Linked DNA regions of Homo sapiens. The protein of the gene in region 1 purifies or fractionates together with the protein of each later gene. This does not show direct contact. Each region holds a gene or a part of one and is shown in the gene's direction. Other genes may lie near its edges.

What was found.
Region 2: the proteins of CLIP4 (region 1) and JAKMIP1 purify together in Homo sapiens (affinity purification with mass spectrometry; one large-scale study listed by BioGRID and IntAct). This does not show direct contact.

The regions. Positions count from the first base shown.
Region 1 is NC_000002.12:29,141,769-29,147,324, forward strand, and holds part of CLIP4 (CAP-Gly domain-containing linker protein 4), read left to right. Parts: intron 1-1,940; coding exon 1,941-2,177; intron 2,178-3,463; coding exon 3,464-3,599; intron 3,600-5,556.
Region 2 is NC_000004.12:6,082,050-6,086,577, reverse strand, and holds part of JAKMIP1 (janus kinase and microtubule-interacting protein 1), read left to right. Parts: intron 1-948; coding exon 949-1,158; intron 1,159-1,612; coding exon 1,613-1,732; intron 1,733-4,528. UniProt on the Homo sapiens protein: Associates with microtubules and may play a role in the microtubule-dependent transport of the GABA-B receptor. May play a role in JAK1 signaling and regulate microtubule cytoskeleton rearrangements.

The DNA.
Region 1 (5,556 bases):
TCCCACTCTATGTCTTTTGAGTGCTGTGTTTAGGCTGTTTATTTTCAGGGTTAATATTGATATGTGAAGTTGAGCTCCTGTTTCATGTTAGCTAGTTGCTTTGTAGCCTTGATTGTGTAGTTGCTTTTATGGAGTCTATAGACTATGTGCTTATGTATGCTTTTGTGACAGCAAGTATTATTTTTTTGTTTTCATGTTTAGAACTCTCTTAATCATCTTTTATTAACCTTTTTCAGGGTTAATATAGAAATGTGAAGTTTTGTTCCTGTTGTCGTGTTGTTAGCTAGTTGCCTCCTAGTCTCAATTGTATAGTTGCTTTATGAAGAACATAGACTATGTGCTTAAGTATGCTTTTGTGGTAGCAAGTTTTATTCTTTTGTTTCCATGTGTAGAACTCCCTTAATCGTCTTTTATAGGTCCAGTCTGGTGGTATGCCACCACTTTAGAAGAAAGTGGAATTCCACAATTGATCATGAATAAGCCTTCTTGTCTTAGGAAGATATCGTCATTGTTATTTTATTATTCTTACTATTATTTAGGTTTTTTTTTTTTAACAGAAGTTTCGATTGTTGAATTGTATGGGAATTAACAGAAGTGTGTGACAGGTTCCAAAAAGTGGGGATATAACAAAAGTCCAAAGTAAAATATTCACTGTAAGCATAGCTTACAACTTAGCCTGGGTGTATTTTAAAAATTTTTATGTTTCCCTATTTTTCTCTCTCTGTTTTTTAGAGAGTATACATTAGTGTAACACATATCTTTATTGTATTTTGTATGTTTTCTTGAAATCTGGGATTAGAAGAGTCCATTACCATCCTAGACATCTAATAACATATCTTCTTGCCATATTTCTACTAAGGACCAACCTGACTTGAATTTTAAAACAAAAAAATGCGAAGCAATTGCAAACTAAGTGTGTTCTAAAAGCCTCGTTCATTTTTCCATGTGAATCATTTGAAGAAGATTGTATCAGTGAAGAAAGGGAAAAAAGTTTCTCAGTTAACAAAAGTATCTTTATTCTTTATATTAAAAGAAGATTACAATCTAAATTATTTCTCATGAAGTCTAAGGTTTTTGGTTAGGGAATGTAAGATGACAGATAATTCATATGATAGGGCTTTTATGATACATATACCATGCAAATGACCGTGGGGTTGTCATTGGCCATTTTATCTTGTCACAGGACAAATCCCAGGATACAGTCTTTCTGTCATAGTGAAAACAGAGCTTTTTTCTTGATTATAGCCCAGGTTTTAGTAGTATCAAAACCATAGTTTCTAGTTTTGAAATCTGAGTTACCCCATGAATGGGCAGGGGGCTGAGGTCACAGAGCCAAGAGGGCAGCTCTGGAACCATGGATCTGGGGCTGGGAAGCGTCAGTCCTGTGACTTTTGTTTCCAAGCTTGCTTTCTCATGCCTCTGCGGGCAGAATGCTCTCCGTTTAGGACCTGAGCACCGCTCCCCACATGGACGCCTTGCTTTTCCCTGCCAGAGAACCTGCACAGCTCCTCCCTGGTCTGCTTTGGATCTCTGTGGAGATGCATCTCATCAGTGAGGCCTCCCTGACCACTTAATCTAAAGAGTTTCCCCTACAACCATCTCTGTCTCCACATTTCCTATTCCCCTTCCCTGTTTTTTTTTTTTCCCTCCAGGCCACTTATGACTGTTTATTATGCCACATATAATTTACTTGTTTAATGTTGTATGGTCTATCTCTCCCACCAGAATGTAATGTTCCTTGAGGGCAGGGCTTGTGTTTTTTTCACTGTAGGATCTTTAGCACCTAGAATGGTGTCTGCATATTGTAGGCGTTCAGGAAATGTTTTTGAATAAACAAATGATGAATGAATTTAACGTAAAGTTCTTCCAACAGAAATTTTATATGACTTTCTAGTGCTCTAAGTAAGAGTTGAACATTTTTCTCTTATCTTTATTTGTAGAATGACAAAGGACAGATCCCTGCTGATGTTGTTCCAGACCCAGTAGATATGCCGTTAGAGATGGCTGACGCCGCAGCCACTGCTAAGGAAATCAAGCAGATGCTTCTAGATGCGGTGCCTCTGTCATGTAACATCTCAAAGGCCATGCTCCCAAATTATGATCATGTCACTGGCAAGGCAATGCTTACGTCACTTGGCCTGAAGTTGGGGGATCGTGTTGTTATTGCAGGACAGAAGGTACAGTAAGTAACTGCAATCTCTGAAGCCAGGGTTGTTATGTCCATGACCTATGTTCAAGGACACAGTATGGTCAGAGTTTTGAGTTTTTGAAAAAGGTTCAACATGTAGGTAGAAAGATGCTTAATGGAAAATGTAAAACTTAGATATGAATTTACTGTTAAGTTATGCTTTAAGAATATAAACTACTTGAACTTAATAAAGAAGACATCTTTATTTGAATAAAGAGTGGAGTGGAGTAGAACTCTTGAGTGAATTTAGAAGCATGAGCTAAGGGATGATCTAAGGTGGAGGATTATCTTTGCAGTCCCCTCTTTCCCCAGTGGTACTTCTCTGACTGCTGCTCCTCCATAGAAATGGAGCACAGGAGACCCTTGCTGTTCATGGGTGTTTGTCTTTGGGTTCCCACAAATAGGGCAGTCTGAGATATTATGTAACCTGGTGATAAGGATTTGTGTGGAAAAGAGGACTCCTACTCCCATCATCCAGACACCTTTTTTCCTCCCAAGCTTTTGTTTCCATATTGTATTCATTTATTGCCAGTTGCTTTTTAAAAATATCTCATATGGGAGGTTTTCTTGTTTTTTCTTTTTTTAATTATTTTATTATACTTTAAGTTCTGGAATACATGCACAGAACATGCAGGTTTGTTACGTAGGCATACGTGTGCCATGGTGATTTGCTGCACCCATCAACCCGTCATCTACATTAGGTATTTCTCCTAATGCTATCCCTCCCCTAGCCCTGTCCCTTCAGTTTTTTCTTAATATTGAGGTTAATAGGGAGCTTGGTATGGAGAATGGAACAGGGAATTCCTGCTTGGATATTGAGTTTCCCAACATAGTTATATCCCTTTTTTTTTTTTTTTTTTTTTTTGAGAAGAGTCTCACTTTGATGCCTAGGCTGGAGTGCAGTGGCACAGTCATAGGTCACTGTAGCCCCGAACTCCTGGGCTCAAGCAACCCTCCTGCCTCAGCCCCTGTAGTAGCTGGAACTACAGGTGTGTGCTACTATCCAGCTAATTAGGATTCTTATGTCTTCTTGGAAATTGACTCCCTTATTATTATTTAATGTTCTTTTTCATCCTTGGTAATGTTCCTGGCTCTGAAGTGAGAGCAAGGAACATTACCAAGCATAAAAAGGTAATGTTGAGAGAGCGAATTTTTAAAATTCACTTTGAGAGAGTGAATTTTTAAAAACTCCCATGGTGAAGTAAAGTTGCAAGAGTAGGACCCTTGGAATTACTAATAATTCCCCAAAATTATTCTGGTTTATATTTTCTTTAGGTTGGTACATTAAGATTTTGTGGAACAACTGAATTTGCAAGTGGGCAGTGGGCTGGCATTGAACTGGATGAACCAGAAGGAAAAAATAATGGAAGTGTTGGAAAAGTCCAGTACTTTAAATGTGCCCCCAAGTATGGTAAGGTTGATATTATTTAACTCGGTAAGAATTAATTAAAAATAATCAAGTTTTACTCTTTTACAGTTGTTAAATAAAACTTTTCTCCTGATTTCTTATGTGATAAATGAGGGGCATGTGGATGTAGGGAGGACTTTTTAAAGATAGGAGATAGTTATATTTATTTACACTGACGAGAGGCGACGTGAGAGGGAGAAATGGTGGTTGCAGGAGAGAAAGGGGACATTTCCAGGAGGAAAGTCCTGAAAAACTTGAAAGGGAAAAGGATTTCAGTATAAGAGTTAGCCTTGCATTAGATCAGGCGCAGCTTTCCACTATTTATTTATTTGTTTGAGACGGAGTCTTGCTCTGTCGCCCAGGCTATAGTGCAGTGGCTCGATCTCGGCTCACTGCAACCTCTGCCTCCCAGGTTCAAGCGATTCTCCTGCCTCAGCCTCCCGAGTAGCTGGGATTACAGGCATTTGCCACCATGGCTGGATAATTGTTGTATTTTCAGTAGAGACAGGGTTTCGCCATGTTGGCCAGACTGGTCTCGACCTCCTGACCTCAGGTTATCTGCCCACCTTGGCCTCCCAAAGTGCAGGGATTACAGGCATGAGCCACTGTGCCTGGCCAACCATGAATTTCAGAGGCCATGATGGAAAGGTTTAGGAGGGTGTCTGGTAGTGACTGGTGAAGAGGGCATCTGATGGAATTGTCTCAATGATGTTTTTGGGAAAGTGTCTTTCTTGGGACTGGTCTCTTGGGTGGCTTTTAGTGGGGAGACAGTGATGAGAGGGGTTTTTTCGTTAGTAGGCTGTGAGCTGTTGGGCTGCCCTTGATTCTTGCTGCCAGCAGTATAGTGATTGGGAGAAGGCCTCTGACCAGGGGCACGCCCAGCTCTGCAGACCTCCCTCAAATCCTGCACCTAGTAGTGTTGTGGCCAAGGGAGGGACTTGGTTATCAAGGAAGTACAGAGCTCTGGAGGTCATGAAGAACTTGGAAAACTGGAAAAATCAAGCAAGGCCAACTTTATGACCGCATTCCTGAGGTTTCTTTGAAACTCTGCGAGGTTTCTTTCTCTTTCTGACAAATGTTTAAGTAAATTCTGACAAATGTTTAAGTAAATTCTTTCTGACATGTTTAGGTAAATTTATTCTTCCTCTCTCTCACACACACCTATCCTGTCTATTGATTTCAATTTGATTTTGTAGTCACTTACTATGTTGTGAATACTTTTCCTTGAAATGAAATATTCTTTTAGAACATTGTTTTCCACGATTGTGTAGTATTCATCTTGTGGCCTGATGGTGAGGTGGTGTGGTATGATGATGATGATGAAGCGGATGGACTTTGGAGTCTGACTGCTTTTGTGTGATTCGATTTCTTTACTTACCAGCTATGTGACTGTCTTTCTCTTCTTGTGCCTCAGTTGTCTTCTGTGAAATAGGGATGACACTATCATAAGGACTAGTGCAAGAATTAAATGTGTTGGTAAAAGTATAAAGCACCTAGAACAGTGCATGATTCCCTGTAAGCACTCAACAGATGAGAGCTGTTGGCTATCACGCTTTTATCAAAATTAACTAGTTTCCTTTCATCACACACTTAGGATGGAATCTCATTTTTTTGGTCTATTAAAACTTTTTTTGTTTGTTTATAAAAATGCTGATTGTATAAGATTTGAAAACAAGAGGAAAGTAAAAATTCTGCATTTTTATTTAATATCCTAGTGTAATTTCCCCAAATCTTTACATATTGTTTGAAAATTTGATTTTGAATAGCTCCATTTCCTTTAATTTTTCCAATTTGACAGATGAAAATTTCTATATTTTAATTGGTATTTCTCTTATTGTGGTGAAATAGAACACTTTTTAAAGTGTTTTGTTGTAGTATAGGTATTTTTTATGTTTCTTGGCAATTGCCTGTTTGTATTATTTTCCCAGTAAAAATTGGGATATTAGTGTGTCTTTTTTAA
Region 2 (4,528 bases), on another chromosome or scaffold:
TGTGGTTCCTCACTGTCACCCGGCCCACTGTGTTGAGCCTGTGTCCTTTCTGACACTCCCCCATAGGAAGGCTGGACAAGACAGGGCTGGGGGTGAACTGAAGATTAAGTTCAGGTTTGTACGTGGAGAGGCTGTGGTCCCTCCGAGATCCAAGCAGAGGTGTCAGGCAGCCAGCTGGTTCTGTGATTGTGGAGCTCAGAGAGAAGCCAGGGCTGAGGCATGTGTTTAAGATCTGCTGCATATGTGGGGTTGATACCGTCGGGGAGGACCTGGCTGCCTGGGAGAGGATATAGAGTGAGAAGAGGCCCGAGCCTTGGAAACTCCAGGCTTCAATGAGAGCCAGAGCAAGACAGTCTATAAAGAAGATAGAAACCATGGGAAGTGGCCTTGGGGAGAGGGAGCAGGAGGTCGTGAGTCTGGGAGTGGGTGACGGAGTCAGGGCGGGAGGACAACGTTGTCCGGTGGGTTCGGTGGCCAGGAGAGCACTGGTGACCTTGGCAGGAGCTGTCTGGTGGTGAGGGTTGGGGAGTTGTGGCCAGGCAGGAGAGGGTCAATGACTGAGAGGGAGACATGGTCCTGGAGACGGAGAGAGAAGCCAGCTCTGCCAAGAAGCTGAGCTGCAGAGGCCTGGCTGGGGGCCGGCAGTGTTTTATTGTATCTCATTAAAGTGAGAGAGACAGGAGCATACACTGATGTCAGTATGCATGTCAGGTTGAATATGTATGTGCTTCAACCCTTAGCTCTGTCTCCTCTGTCTTGTGGGAGTGACGGGGAACAAGCCCTGGGCTGCGGGCTGTGCTTGCTCTGTGTCTGGAGTTTACTGAATTCAGTTGACCCAGGCCCGAGACACTGCTTTGACCTTTCCCTGGGCCGAAGGCCCCAATTTGGGGAGAGATTTCCTTGGTCATGAGCCCCTAGGGCTGACTGCTTATTCTTTCTCCTTTTCAGATGGATGAGATCAAAGGGAAAGACCGTGTGATTCTGGCCTTGGAGAAGGAACTTGGCGTGCAGGCTGGGCAGACCCAGAAGCTGCTTCTGCAGAAAGAGGCTTTGGATGAGCAGCTGGTTCAGGTCAAGGAGGCCGAGCGGCACCACAGTAGTCCAAAGAGAGAGCTCCCGCCCGGGATCGGGGACATGGTGGAGCTCATGGGCGTCCAGGTGAGGGGCAGCAGCTTGTGCCAGCCTCAGGCTGGTCCCCCACCCATTTAGGTGGCATTTTTCTGGTCAGCCACAGAGGACTCTGAGGTGGCATGTATTCACTCATTCATTCATTCACTCAGTATTGGAGGGGATGTTATAAGTTCTTTGTGCTGGACGCTGTGTGAGGTGCCGGTGCGTGGCGGCCTTTGTAAGAGATACGGGGTGGGAGGGGCCTGACCACAAGGGCCCCAGGGAGCCACGGAAGGGTTTGAAGTCTCAGTGGCCGTCTAGATGGAGTCTTCCGCAGGTGTGCAGTGGGCTTGGGTGTTCCCCACCTTGCTGTGTGGCATGTGGGCCCCTGAATAAGGATCTCACCCATTATGTCATGTGAATTTTCTAAGAAGGCTCCACACAACTTCTTCAAAGTACATTTACGTCTTGACTTTTTTTTTTTTTTTTTTTTTTTTTTTAGGATCAACATATGGACGAGCGAGATGTGAGGCGATTTCAACTAAAAATTGCTGAACTGAATTCAGTGATACGGAAGCTGGAAGACAGAAATACGCTGTTGGCAGATGAGAGGAATGAACTGGTAAGTAGCCCCAAGAGACAGGCGGTGCCTCATAGGGTGCAAGGAAGGGGCCCTGAGTCCCTGAAACATGCCCTGCACAGAAAGTTAATGCAGAAGCCTTCTGGTTCTCTGAACTTTCCTTCTTACTTCTTTTCGATTAAAAATCTAACACATGCTCATTGAAGAAATCTCTTACTGCCATTTGTTTTTGTAGGAACTTATCTTTAGCAAACAACTGGAGAACTTCCATGAGAAGCATGGAGAGGATGTTCATTGCAGTGTTGTTTATGTTAACAACCGAAACCGAAAAAAATCAACAATTAAAAAACCAAAAAACCCAATTGTTCAATACTAAAGCGTAGGGCAGAGTGATTATGGAATATTTATACAATGAATTCTAGACTGTCATTAAGATTGATGATGGAGACCCTCTTTAATTGAAATGGAAACGTGTTCATAGTAAATTAAATGAAAAATGCATTTTACAGAACAATAATACATTGTCATCATCTTGAATATTAGAAATTATTCTTTTTTTTTTTTTTTTTGAGATAAAGTTTCACTCTTGTCGCCCAGGCTGGAGTGCAATTGGCACCATCTTGGCTCACCGTAACCTTCACCTCCCGGGTTCAAGCGATTCTCCTGCCTCAGCCTCCCGAGTAGCTGGGATTACAGGCATGTGCCACCATGCCCGGCTAATTTTGTACATTTAGTAGAGGCAGGGTTTCTCCATGTTGGCCAGGCTGGTCTTGAACTCCTGACCTCAGGTGATCTGCCCGCCTCAGCCTCCCAAAGTGCTGGGATTACACACAAGAGCCACCACATCTGGCTAGAAGTTATTCTTTTAGGTGGTGTAATTATGGGTAATTTTAATTTGTGCTTATGTATTTACTTTTTTGCATAAAATTTTATATACTTGTAAACTAAAACTTATACATTAATTTTAAAAATAATGAACATGGACTTCTGGTTAAAAAAGAAATCTCCAGTAAAAATAGAAATTTCATGAATATGTTTACATTTTCTGGATAACAGCAAAACTAATTTTTATGTAATGGCAGTTGATACATCAACTTCTTGACAGATGCCTCATAATTTTTATGTTTATTCTAATTTTTATTATGAAGAGAAGTATATCCACAGAATATTTGAAAAAAATGAGTGGTGAAAAGTGTCCGTAAGTATCACCTCTTCACAACTTTAATAGGATCAAAATAAATTTACTTCCTTCCAGTATTTTTAAATGTTTTTTTTTTTTTGGCTTTAATCAGACTGTACATCTAATATTATGTCTCTACTCTTCATTTAAATATTTATAAGCTCATAAATACTCATGAGCTGCATAGTTTACTGAGTGGATTAGGAAAAAACACAGGCTTCTGGAAACATGTCAGATCAGACTGAAGTAGTTAAAAGTAGAAACTAATAAGTTTGCCAACGCTTCAATCTTTTTTTTTTTTTTTTGAGGTGGAGTCTTGCTCTGTCGCCCAGGTTTGAGTGAGGTGATGTGATCTCAGCTCACTGCAACCTCTGCCTCCCGGGTTCAAGTGATTCTCCTGCCTCAGCCTCCCAAGTAGCTAGGATTACAGGCACCCGCCAACACACCCGGCTAATTTTTGTATTTTTAGTAGAGATGGGGTTTCACCATGTTGGCCAGGCTGGTCTTGAACTCCTGACCTCAAGTGATCTGCCTGCCTCAGCTTCCCAAAGTGCTGGGATTACAGGCGTGAGCCACCGCGCCTGGCCTCAATCTTAAAATCATGAGGTAACTACTGCTAGTTTGGAGTGGTTCTTAAATGTTCTTAATGTTTAAATAAATACCTTAAAACTCACCGAGAGACTTTGTTTTATTTTATGGATATGAATTGGGATTTTTTTCCCTGCTGTGTATTGTTCTGCAACTTGCTTTTTTCACCTCATTGATCAATTACATCACTCCCCATCAGTGCTTAGAGATCTGTCTTTGTCTTTTTACCAGCGGCTTGGTAGTCCATTGTGTGGATATACCATGGTCTGTTCACCTCTCTTCCCAGTGGTGGATCTTTAGGCTGTTGCCGCTTTCTGGATTTCTGTGAGGTGCCACATGCCTGTAATCTCAGCACTTTGGGAAGCCAACGTGGGAAGATTCCTTGAGCTCAGGAGTTCCAGCCCAGCTTGGGCAGCATGGCAAAACCCCATCTCTAAAAATACAAAAAAATTAGCTGGGTGCAGTGGTGCACACCTGTAGTTCCAGCTACTTGGGAGGCTGAGGTGGGAGATCACTTGAGGCCAGGACGTCAAGGCTGCAGTGAGCTGAAATCACGCCACGGCACTCAAGCCTGGGTGACGAAGTGAGACCCTTTGTCAAAGTGACACATGTCATTTTACCTACCTTCTGTCTCGAAAAAAAAAAATGCCATGAAGAAGATACATATGGGTCTTTACTGACTTTACATAAAGGTTCAAGTCAGTAAAGACACGTATGTATCTTCTACATGGCATTTTTTTGGGGGGGCGGTAGGTTTCTAGAAGTAGAATGCATGGGTCACATGGTACATTTTATATTTCAACCTATACCATCAGAATATTTTACCTTAACATTTACAGCCTGGGGAGTAAACGCAGGGGTCTAGAGTCAGTCCCTTGTGTTTGAATCTTGGTGAACTCAAACCACCAATCTTTGCAAAAGTGCAAAGCATTCTTGGCACTTTCTTTGTGAAGTTGGGCCCATTGCCTCCTCTCTTTGGGCTCAGGTTCTTTGTCTATAAAATGCGGATGGGGAAGGTGGCCCCTTCACATGTGTTGGCTGTGCCTGTGGTTATCATGATATTGATAGAT